Linked DNA regions of Homo sapiens. The protein of the gene in region 1 purifies or fractionates together with the protein of each later gene. This does not show direct contact. Each region holds a gene or a part of one and is shown on either strand. Other genes may lie near its edges.

What was found. The genes of interacting proteins can lie anywhere in the genome.
Region 2: the proteins of CLBA1 (region 1) and FAT3 purify together in Homo sapiens (affinity purification with mass spectrometry; one large-scale study listed by BioGRID and IntAct). This does not show direct contact.

Annotation. Positions count from the first base shown.
Region 1 is NC_000014.9:104,983,461-104,989,451, forward strand, and holds the start of CLBA1 (uncharacterized protein CLBA1), read left to right. Parts: upstream 1-2,327; 5' UTR 2,328-2,971; coding exon 2,972-3,394; intron 3,395-5,482; coding exon 5,483-5,628; intron 5,629-5,991.
Region 2 is NC_000011.10:92,345,844-92,350,584, reverse strand, and holds part of FAT3 (protocadherin Fat 3 isoform 1 precursor), read right to left. Parts: intron 1-4,741.

The DNA.
Region 1 (5,991 bases):
GAAGCTGGCCCAAGAAGCCAGCAGCGGCCTAGCAGCCACCTGGGCTGCCCCCACCTCCTCCTGCAACCAGGGTTGGGCACCTGATGTCAAGGTTGCCGCTGCCATTTCCTCTGCACCTTGGCTTCCCCGACGCAGCACTTCTCAGTGGGTCACAAGGGGTCACTCAGGCATATTAGTTCCCTGCTGCTGCCATAACAAAATACCCCCGACACAGTGGTTGAAAACAGCATGTGCGCATTTATCAACTCCAGTTCTAGGTGTGGGCAGGATGGTGTGCCTTCTGGAGGCTTCAGGGGAGATCTGTTTTCTGGTCCCTTCAGCCTCCAGAGGCATCTGCAGTCTCGTATCACTCCGGCTCTGCTTCCATCTTTGCGTCTCCTCTCTGACTCTGACCTTCCTGCTTCCTTCTCAGGACCTTTGTGATTACATGCCTCATCCAGGCTCCACTCCTCCTCTCAAGAGCCTTAATTTAAGCCCATCTATAAAGTGTCTTTGACCCTGTAAGGTCACATAGCCACAGGTTCCAGGGGTTAGGATGTGGACATCTCTGTGGGGCTGTTCAACTGCCACACCAGCTCTTCAACCCATATGGGTCATTTCTATCCTCCAACCACCCTGGGAGTACTGTGCTCCCCACGCTCTTCACGTGGAAGCTGAGGCCCAGACGGGGGTGGGGAATTGCAGAGAACGAGGAGAGCAGCTCCTGTCCCAGCTCTGCTTCTCACGCAGGCCTTTGGGGTGGGGCCTCAGTTTCCCCACCTGTACACAAGGACAACACTCCTCCTGCCCCCCTCCCAGCTCCCTGGGCCTCAAGGACGGCAAGGACGTGCAGTGGATGAGGGGCAGCAGTGGGAACGGACACTGCCCTTAAGCTGGCAAGACAGGCCCAGGCCTGGTCTACAAACCCAGCCAGCTCCTGATCACCATCCTTAGGGTCACTGCGGTGCTGGGGTGGCCAAGCCAAGATCCAGTCCTGGGCAGTCTGACCGAAGAGCTTCCATACTGCATGGCCCGGCTGCTCTGCCCCTCAGGAAGGAGCGGGGACAGGAGGCTGGGTCTAAGGTGCAGAGAATGATCTCATCTTGTCATTTGTAAAATTAAATTGTTCTGTAGCTTGGCTGAGAAGGACCAGGGAGGGAAGGGGTGATTCAAGCAAGGACAGAGTCCAGGCAGGGCCCCAGGCCCCAGGGTGGGAGAAATGCGAGCCTGAGGTAGATAGGGGGTGGACAGTAGGTGGCATGGTTCAGGGCTTCACCAGGGCCAGGCCCTCCCCTTACCCAGAGGAGGCAGTGATGGGGGCCAGTCTGGGAAGGCCAGGGAGGAGATGGAGTCAAGGTTGACTCCTTGAGTCTGGGGGTGAGGGCAGATGGCAGAAGGCCTGGAAGCCCGGAGGGGAGCTGCCAGAGGCCAGCCTAGCTCCTTGGTCGTCCAGTGGCTGGAGAGGGGCTGTCCGTCAGCCCTGCTCTGCCCGGGTCTGGCTGGTGACAAAGGAGGGGAGCACTCCATGCGGCCTGCGAGGGAGGGGTGGAGCCTCCCCGCAGCTCCTTCCCCCAGGAATGGGGACGAGTTAGGGGCGGGCGAGGTTTTGGGATTCAGGAGTCAGCAAGACGGACTTGGCTCTCGCCAGGGACAGGTGGGGTCCTGAGGGGCCGTCGCTCAGCTGCACCCACAGAGGGGTCGGCGGCGCGGCAAGTTAGGCTGCGGGGCGCCGGGAGAAGGGGCTGCGGGTGACGGGTGCGCTGGGACGGACCTGGGGAGCTCGTCGTGAGGAAGAAAGAACCACTCTAGGGCCAGGCCCAGTGGCTCAAGCCTGTAATCCCAGCACTTTGGGAGGCCGAGGCGGGCGGATCACGAGGTCAGGAAATCGAGACCATCCTGGCTAACACGGTGAAACCCAGTCTCTATTAAAATACAAAAAAATCAGCCGGGCGTGGTGGCGGGCGCCTGTAGTCCCAGCTACTCGGGAGGCTGAGGCAGGAGAATGGCGTGAACCCGGGAGGCGGAGCTTGCAGTGAGTCGAGATCGCGCCACTGCTCTCCAGCCTGGGCGACAGAGCGAGACTCCGTCTCAAAAAAAAAAGAAAAAAAAAAAAAAGAAAGAACCACTCGGGCGGCGAACTGAGCACGGACAGAAAGCTCGAGCGGCCCGGCGCCCAGGGCTCGGCCAGTGTGGAAGCCCGATCCCACCCGCAGCGGAGGCGGCCCGGGGCAGGGAGGGCGGGTCCGGGGCGGGTCCTGAACGGCGGGGGCCGGCGCTGGCCTCGCCCCGGATGCGTGCTGACGCCACGGCGACGGACGCCGGAAGCGGAGCTGGCGCACGCCGTTGCCAGGCAACGGGGCGGCGCAGGCAGGAGGGAACGGCTGGTTGCAGGTTTCTCTCGCCCTGGTCCCGCGCGGCCCCGCCGAGGCGGCGACCAAGGTGGGTGCGGGGACTCTCGGGAGCCGTGGGCCAGGCGCTTAGCCGGCCACCTCGGGCCCTGTCCAGGCCCAGGCGTTCCAGGGCTGCTCTGCGGGCCGCGTGCGAGAGGGACTCTCGGGAGGCCCCGGGGCGCCGCACCCACTCCTTCCCACTTGGGACTCCCGCGGGCGCCCGGCTCTCGCTCCTCTGGCCAGCGTGGGCCTCCCAGGCCCCCTCGCGGCTCTCTCCAGAGCAGGAGCCCCACCTTGGGCCGCCCCTCTCACACCTGCCGTGGGTCTGGTACGCGCCTCTGTGTCGGACTCCGCGCCCGCCTGCGTGGGAGGAAGCCAGGACTCCCGGGCGACCGGGCCATTCCTGTGGTTTGTGTCAGTTCCACAGCAGCACGTGGGCACTTTCCACCGTCAGCCACTGGGCAGCCCGGGGCACTCCTGCAGCGTCCCCTGGCCCTCTCCAGGGCAGGGGAAGGTTGGGCAGTCCTGGGCGGCCAGCACCCCGGCGTGCATGTCTCCTGAGCAGCTGCCCATCGGGCCTCTGCTGGCCTGGGGGCTCCAAGATGCAAGGCCGGCGGGAGCTGGGGGGAGAGCCTTTGAGTGACCTCCAGGAGGAAGCAGCCAGCGCTTCCCTCCGAGTGGCACCTGAGAGGCTGAGTGATGACAGTTTGGAATGGAGACGGACCTGCCCCGACCTTCTCCTGTCCGATGGGAAAGCCAGCATCTCCATGCCCCGTGAGGGCGGTTCCACCTGCACTGCCCGATGTCCTGACCCTGGGGAACACAGCAGCACTTGGGGGGAGTTTGAAGGCTTTCGGGAATCTTCAGCCAAGTCTGGACAATTCTCACAGTCCCTTGAACTCCTCGAGGGACCCACAGAACCCCAGCCACCGAGAACCACTTCTGCCCCAAAAGAGTGCAGTTCTCACCAACCATGCCAGGGTGGACCTTGGGTGACAGGAACTTCTGCCGTCCCACCTTCTGAGGTATTTCTGCTGTGCTGTGGTCACCATGTTGAGTGGGACGTGTACACACCAAGAGGCCTACAGCCCTCGAATGCTGTGGCGTGCTGGCCAGGGAGGGGGCTGACAGCCCCAGAGCGTCTGCTTCTCTCCTGGCCTTCGTCCCTGGCCATGTGGTTGGCAGTCCCATCCTGAGGCCAGGGAAGCAATGAGTTGGCAGAGGAGGCTGCAGAAATGGGTCACACGAAGGCCAGGTGGGGGCCACCTGAGCTGGGTCGCTCTTTCTGACCATTCCTCCCCCAGCCTGTCCATTCCCCATTGGTGGGGGCTGCACTGGCCCCAGCTCAGGGCATTTGAGGAGGAGCTTTTTGTCTGAATTCTGAATCTGCTGAGTTCAAAAGTCTCAGAGATTCTAAAATCACATGATCACATTTCAACTTGCTTGTAATGAATTGGGTGACGCGGGATCCAACCTGTCCGGGAGCTTGTAATGAATTGGGTGATGCCCATTCCGACCTGTCCGGGAGCCAGGGTCCCAGCCTTCAGGCCCCTGCCCCCTGCTCTCTTTCAGAGCAGACTGTGGGTGTTTACCGTTTGGTGACACTTCCGCTCCTTCTCTTTTCCTGTCTTCTTCCTTCCATTGTTCCTCTTTCTCTGCCACTTCTTCCCAAATGGTTCATCCCAAGCACCATCATGAGAGATCAGAAATAAAACCAGTGAGGAAGGAAATAAAGATATTGTAGTTCTCAGGGCTGGCCTGTTTTCTCTTCCTTTTCTTTTTTTTTTTTTTTTTTTTTTTTTTTTTTTGAGACAGCCTCACTCTGTCGCTGAGGCTGGAGTGCAGTGGCACTGTGTCGGCTCACTGCAACCTCTGTCTCCTGGGTTCAAGCAGTTCTCCTGCCTTAGCCTCCTGAGTAGCTGGGATTACAGGCATCCACCACCACGCCCGGCTAACTTTTTATATATATATATATATATGTATGTTTAGTAGAGACTGGGTTTTACCATGTTTGCCAGGCTGGTCTTGAACTCCTGACCTCAGGTGATCCGCCCGCCTCGGCCTCTCAAAGTGCTGGGATTACAGGCGTGAGCCACCATGCCCGGCCGGACTGTTTTCTGAAGCAGTTTCCCTGGAATCCTGATGAGATCCACTCTTAATAGAGTAAGGTCTGCTGTAATGCTTGTTTTGAATACAGGATTTGTTTTCCAGCGTGATTGATGTATTAGGGAACAATTAGAGCATAGTTGAAATTTCACAAGAAAGAGTAGATAAATGCAGAAAACTGCCCCCAGCTGAGCTGGGGCCCGTTGGAATACATGAGACTCGCACACGTACACCCTCACACAGCGCTTAGTGCCCCAATGTAGCACACCTGTCAACACCTGGTGTTAGGACTTCACCCGGTTCAGACCACCCTCCTCCTACCCCTTCACACTAACTCAGCCTGCGAGCCTTTGTCTTTTCCAAGGTAAAGTGCTGTGCTTACTGTAGTATGTATAATTTCTTTTTTTTTTTTTTTGAGACGGAGTCTCTCTCTGTCACCCAGGCTGGAGTGCAGTGGCACAATCTCGGCTCACTGCAACTTCTGCCCCCCACCCGCCGGATTCAAGCGATTCTCCTGCCTCAGCCTCCTAAGTAGCTGGGATTATAGGCGTGTACCACCACACCCAGCTAATTTTTGTATTTTTAGTAGAGATGGGGGTTTCACCATGTTGGCCAGGCTGGTCTCGAACTCCTGACCTCGTGATCTGCCCACCTGGGGCTCCCAAAGTGCTGGGATTACAGGCGTGAGCCACCGCGCCCGGCCGCATGTATAATTTCTTAACCAAACTGGAAAACAGCACTGACATTATTGGGTGGTCATCTTTTTTCATGTGTCACTGATGAAGTTTGAATGTTTTGCCCTAACCCCACCTTTCCCATGAGTCCTCTGGTTTTGTGTGATTTTGCTAACTTGGTGATTTTTAGGAATGAATATGTCAAGTGATAGTAACACTAATGGTATGATCAATTACAAATTTCATTTCTATCACAATTATTTCTTTGGAATAAGGTAACGTTATGTATGTCTTTCTCCTAACTTTGGTATGCTTTTCTTCTTTTCTTTTCAGCCCATTCTCAGCTATGAGAACATTTTAAAGTGTGCTTTTCAAGAAATAACAGTCCAGCAGGCAGCTGAAGACGTTTCCACCATAGACCATTTCCTAGAAATAAGCAGTGAAGAAAAACCTGGCGTTGAACGTGTACATAAATTGTGGTAATGAACTGAAGAAATATTTCTTACAGCAACTGCTTTTGTACTTTTGTTTGATAAAAGTAGGTGTGTGAGGCTTTGTTTTTGCCTTTATGGAGAGTAGCATCTCTCCTGAGGTCCCTGCCATCTGTGGGTCATAGGGGTCCTATGAGAAGGGGCAGCACGATTGGCGCTCCAGCTGTGGCCTTCCACTCTGAGCCCTATTCATCCTCCTCCCCAGCCAGCTCACCTGGAGCAGCTGGACCCAAGCCCAGCTCCCCTTGGGTCTCAGTGCCAGTGCTGGTGGAGTGGGTGGGGGCCTCGCATTCAGTGCGAGTGGCTGGTGGGCCTGGGCAGTGGGCACAGGGGCCTTCTGGGGGACTTGGC
Region 2 (4,741 bases), on another chromosome or scaffold:
CTTTTCCCCATCACACAATCACTCTCTCAAAATTACCTGCAAGCAAGAATGAAATAATTAAGGATCCTAGAAGCATATATGACATAATTTAATTCTAATGAAATAGTCAACATATGTCATTGATTTTAAAAAGTACAACCCATCCCTGCCCCCAGCATATCTTTTTGGTTATCTCCTCTCTGGTTTTAATGTAGTTCTAGTTATTGGCTGCAAACTGAAAAAAAAAAAAATCCCTACAGGAGTTTAACATATTAAAATATTACAAATTGTATGGTTTATAAAACCCTTTCATATCCAAGGTTAGCAAGGCACATATTATTATAACCTTTTTGTTAATGATAATATAAAACCTCATTTTCCTATCTCGACTTTATTAGTTAAGTCTAAATAGACTTAACTTTTTCTTGTTGAATACCTCCTTTCTCCCCTCTCCTTGATTAATTTTACTGGCTAAAATAGGAAAAAGTTTTTACCTTTTAACCCACATAGTCATGAAACTGTGGAAACTGTCTAAATTTAATAGTCATTGATAGAGTCTAGCAGACTCTAGATTAGAGCTCAGGCTCTCTCCATACCCCACAAGGCTTTTCTTTTTTTTTTTTTTTCAGCTCCACCTTACAGGAGACTCTCCTGAAGTGAAACCCTGAGCATGCAAATGCTGGTTCTGCCTGGGAATGTAAGATATCTTGCTGCTATCATTTGCTGAAGTATCCCGTAGAAAACATGGAGTTACAGATAGAAAAAGTCAAGTTTAATTTAGGGACTTTACAGGCATTAATAGACAGCAAAAATGAAAAGCTGAAAAAGGGAGTAAGCGTCTATAAAGGAAGTTAATTTCACATGCAGTTCTTTAGAGACATTGCATATGCTAAGTAAGTGGAACAGGCAGCCTGTGGACAGCAGCTCTGGTAACTAGGGCAGGGACCAAGTCAGATGGCCGCTGGTGACCCTGCTCAGTAAGTTCCTAGAAAGACATCACTGGGCTGCTGGTCATTTCAAAGGAAACTTTATTAAGAAAATGATACATTTGGGGTTTTCTGGATGCAGTAGGTTCAAATGTCCTACCTAGCAGAGTGGCGAAGCCCACAGTGTGATTGGGGTGTCTACTTTGTAGAGCACAGTCAACTGAAATATGGGAGCAAAAGAACCTCTCTGTAGTGATCACAGAAGTACACTAGCAGAAGCTTTAATAGTATTTTGTATGCCTCAGGAGTCTCTATTTCATCATCTCAAAAGGCTCCAAAGCAGTGGAGACATTTTTAGGCTCACTGTGGACATGTGAACACGGTAAAGTAAGCGAGTCTCTCGTAAGGGAATGTGAAGGTTAGGTTACACTCTCTCAAGGTGAAATACTGGGATCACTCCCAGAATGCTCCAGAGAAATACAAATAAAGTTTCTGCCTTATTTCCCACTCACTATCCTGTGCTGAGAAGACTTCCTGTAACAGTAATTTTGCCGATCCTTAGCCCAAGGAGTCTAGACTCCATGGTCATCAGAGAGGAAAACTTCCCCCATGAAAAATACAGTTCAACTGAACTTTTCTGAGTCTGCCCCCTCATTCACACTTTGAACTTCTACTTAAGGAAACCTGATGGGAAGTACATCACTCTATTCCCAGCATCCAGTACAGCACCCACCACACAGGAAGCAAACAACACTGGTTTGTTGAACAGAACCCTAAGTACTAATGTAACCAGAGGCCCAGATGCCTTTAATATGCTCCGTTTCCTATTCCCCAACAAAAAGCACATCTTACTTCAGGAAACTGAATCAAGAAATTATACAGGTTCAAAGGAGCCTTAAAGATCATCTGTTCCAATCTCCTGAGTTTACAGATGAAGAAACCAGGGTCCATAAAATGAAGAGATTCCCCTAATGCCAGGACTCAAGTTTCCCAGGTTCAGAGCTAATACCAAACTGAAACACGCTTCAATTGAATTAGTTTTCATTAAGTTACATTAAAATTTTAGAGCTGTGGTTTATCATTATTTTGGAGTCATCTTCCTTTTCTGACACCATATTACTCTCCCTGGTGTTATTTCTTCCTCTAAGTAGTTAACTGTTTATAAATAAACATTAAAGTGCCCTAAGGGGATAGTTACTTTTTACAAATCTTTCTGTGAATCTTTCAAGGCAAAGAATGCTATCATAATATGAAAATGTATCATTCAATTTAACTATTCAAAAATTGGTGCTTTTGCATAGTGAGTTTTTCTTTCAGCAAGATACATTGCTGGAATTGTTTTCTTAAAAACCGGAATCGGTGGTCTTAAATGCAAATAGAAAATATTTCAAAACAAGCATAAATGGAGTAGTATTATCACATACTGAAATTCAGACCTACCACCAAAAAACTGAGCAGGACTAAGTTTGTCAAATTCAGTTGTTGAAAACAAAATATCTTTTAAGGCTTTTGTATCTTTATTGTGGCAAAGGAAAAAAAAAAAGCCCTATCTGGCACAAATTATTTTAAAAAGCCTTGCAGTTTTCCCACTGATTAGGAAATAAATGAATGCTAGAAGCTAGGAATGTTGTAAAATTTTGCAAAGCAAATAATAGAATTGAATTTTGTCTTCTTTTCTTTTTAGCATGCCAAGACAACTGTTGAAGTTTTTTTTAAAAATAATATTGCCCTTTCCACATTGAAGCCAAGCTATTTGTGAAGCCAATATGATACAGTATTTTAGATGCTCTGCACATTGATTTATTCTACTGCTTCTAGATTATTTTAAAGAAAGCACTTAGTTCCCAACCTCAGAGCCTATTTTCTACGACTTACTAACATAATCAATAATTTTTGATATAATCTCCAAAGAGATCATCAAGCCATCAATCTTTGAGACATTTATTTTTCAGAGGCATTCCTGGTGTGCCTCCCCATCCTGCCCTTCTGCTCTGTTAGGATGGATCTTACTGTGGGACTCAGAAGGGCATGCAGATTTTTCTTTCCATGGATGAATAAATACCAGAGACCTTGGGGGCAGGGAACAGCAATCACAGAGACTACCTCTCTGGGACAGCCTTGGCTCTGTAGGGTACCTATGCTTGCTTTGGTAACCTGATAAAGCTGTTTTCTGCCAACATTAATCTGGTCTGCTTAAATTGGTGAGACTTCTGAACACTACCAAAGGTATTTTAAAAATATATTTCATTTTCATTCCCTCTCTTCCTATCTTTTCTATTTTGAGGGGATTTTGTTAGCCAAATCGGGAGGGTACTCAAGAAATTTGCTATGTTAGGCTGTAAAGCAAAGAACAAAGTCAATATAGAGTCCCCTTGACAGGAGTCCTTGAGGAAGGTGACCCGTGTTCAAACTGCAAATGGAAGATCAGTCTCTGCTCTGGTGTATGCAGTGCCAGAGCCAATGCCAACACAAAGGCAGAGCATGCAATGGTTACAGAACATGCACCTTGGCACTTGACTGCCTGCATTTGAATCCTATCTATGCCATTTACTAGCTTTACAACCCCAGGCAAGCTATTGAACCTCTCTGCACCTCAGTTTATTCTTCTATAAAATGAGAACAATAATGCCTACCGAATAGGATTTGAGTTAATAAATGGAAAATACTTAAAACACTTCATGGCACATTGTATATAATTGTTAGCTATTATCATTAATAAAGGCAGATTTTAGAGAAGACAAAATCTGGGAATCACAAGACAGGGAGTAAAATTTACAACCTACTCTACGTTTTATTTTCCAGTAGAAAAAAACACCCATCAAAGGTAAAGGAAAGAATGTCCTTTCTTTACTAAAAGCAAAGGAAGAACACTATGTTAGCCTCAAAGGTCAGAGAAACCTGAGTTGAATCCAGGACTTGCCATCTAGTGGCTGGGTGACTTTGGGGCTAATATTGAAAGCTTCATTAAATCTCAGTTTCTCTATCTTTAAAATGGGGAGTATAAGAGTTCACACTCTCAGGTAAAAGGCTTAACATAGTGTCCGGCACATAGTAAATATTCCGTGAATATTAACTGACATAATTATTAAGGTTTTCAGAAGCAGGGATACAAAACAAAAAACGAGTAAAACTGAGGTAAGGATAAAGGGTCCAGAGAGGGACCACACCTAATATGAAAGCTACCCTTTCACAGATCACAAACTTGTGCCAGGGGTCAGAGTCAATGCCACAGAGAGGTCCTGTGCATGGTGACATGGCCAAAAGCTATTGCCAGAGCTCTGTAATTGATTCCAATTCCCGTGTGTGCACTTTCAAACTCCAAAAGCTACAGCTGCGTTAGGGAACTACTCCTTAGAGCTAGCATTTAATTCCTGGGGAGTTCAAGCAAGATTTCTCCTTGCAATGATGAGTCCCAGAACAGCCAGATACTGCTTAGCCCTATCTTCTAGAGCAGCCTATTCTGATACCACCCAAATTACCATTCTCATGGCGCTACTTTATGTTCTGGGTCCTTGCTCCTGAAATCAGTTATAGACTGCTCGTATGACATACTTGGGAATAAAGTTTTACTCCCTGGTTGGTGCTAATGGCTGCCTGAAAAGAAGAAAAAGGGTTTGATGTGGGTTATTTCTTTAAAATACAAACCACTGTAGCTAGAGAATGTATAAGATAATATACTAAGTATTTGAATCACAATAATTTAGCTTATGCCATTATTCACATTATATAATGAAATACTGAGCCAAAGCCATGTAAAGTCACTGAGTTTTATAGCCAAAGGGATCATAAGCTTATCTACCCCAACACCCTAGTTTAACCATTGAGGAAACAGATTG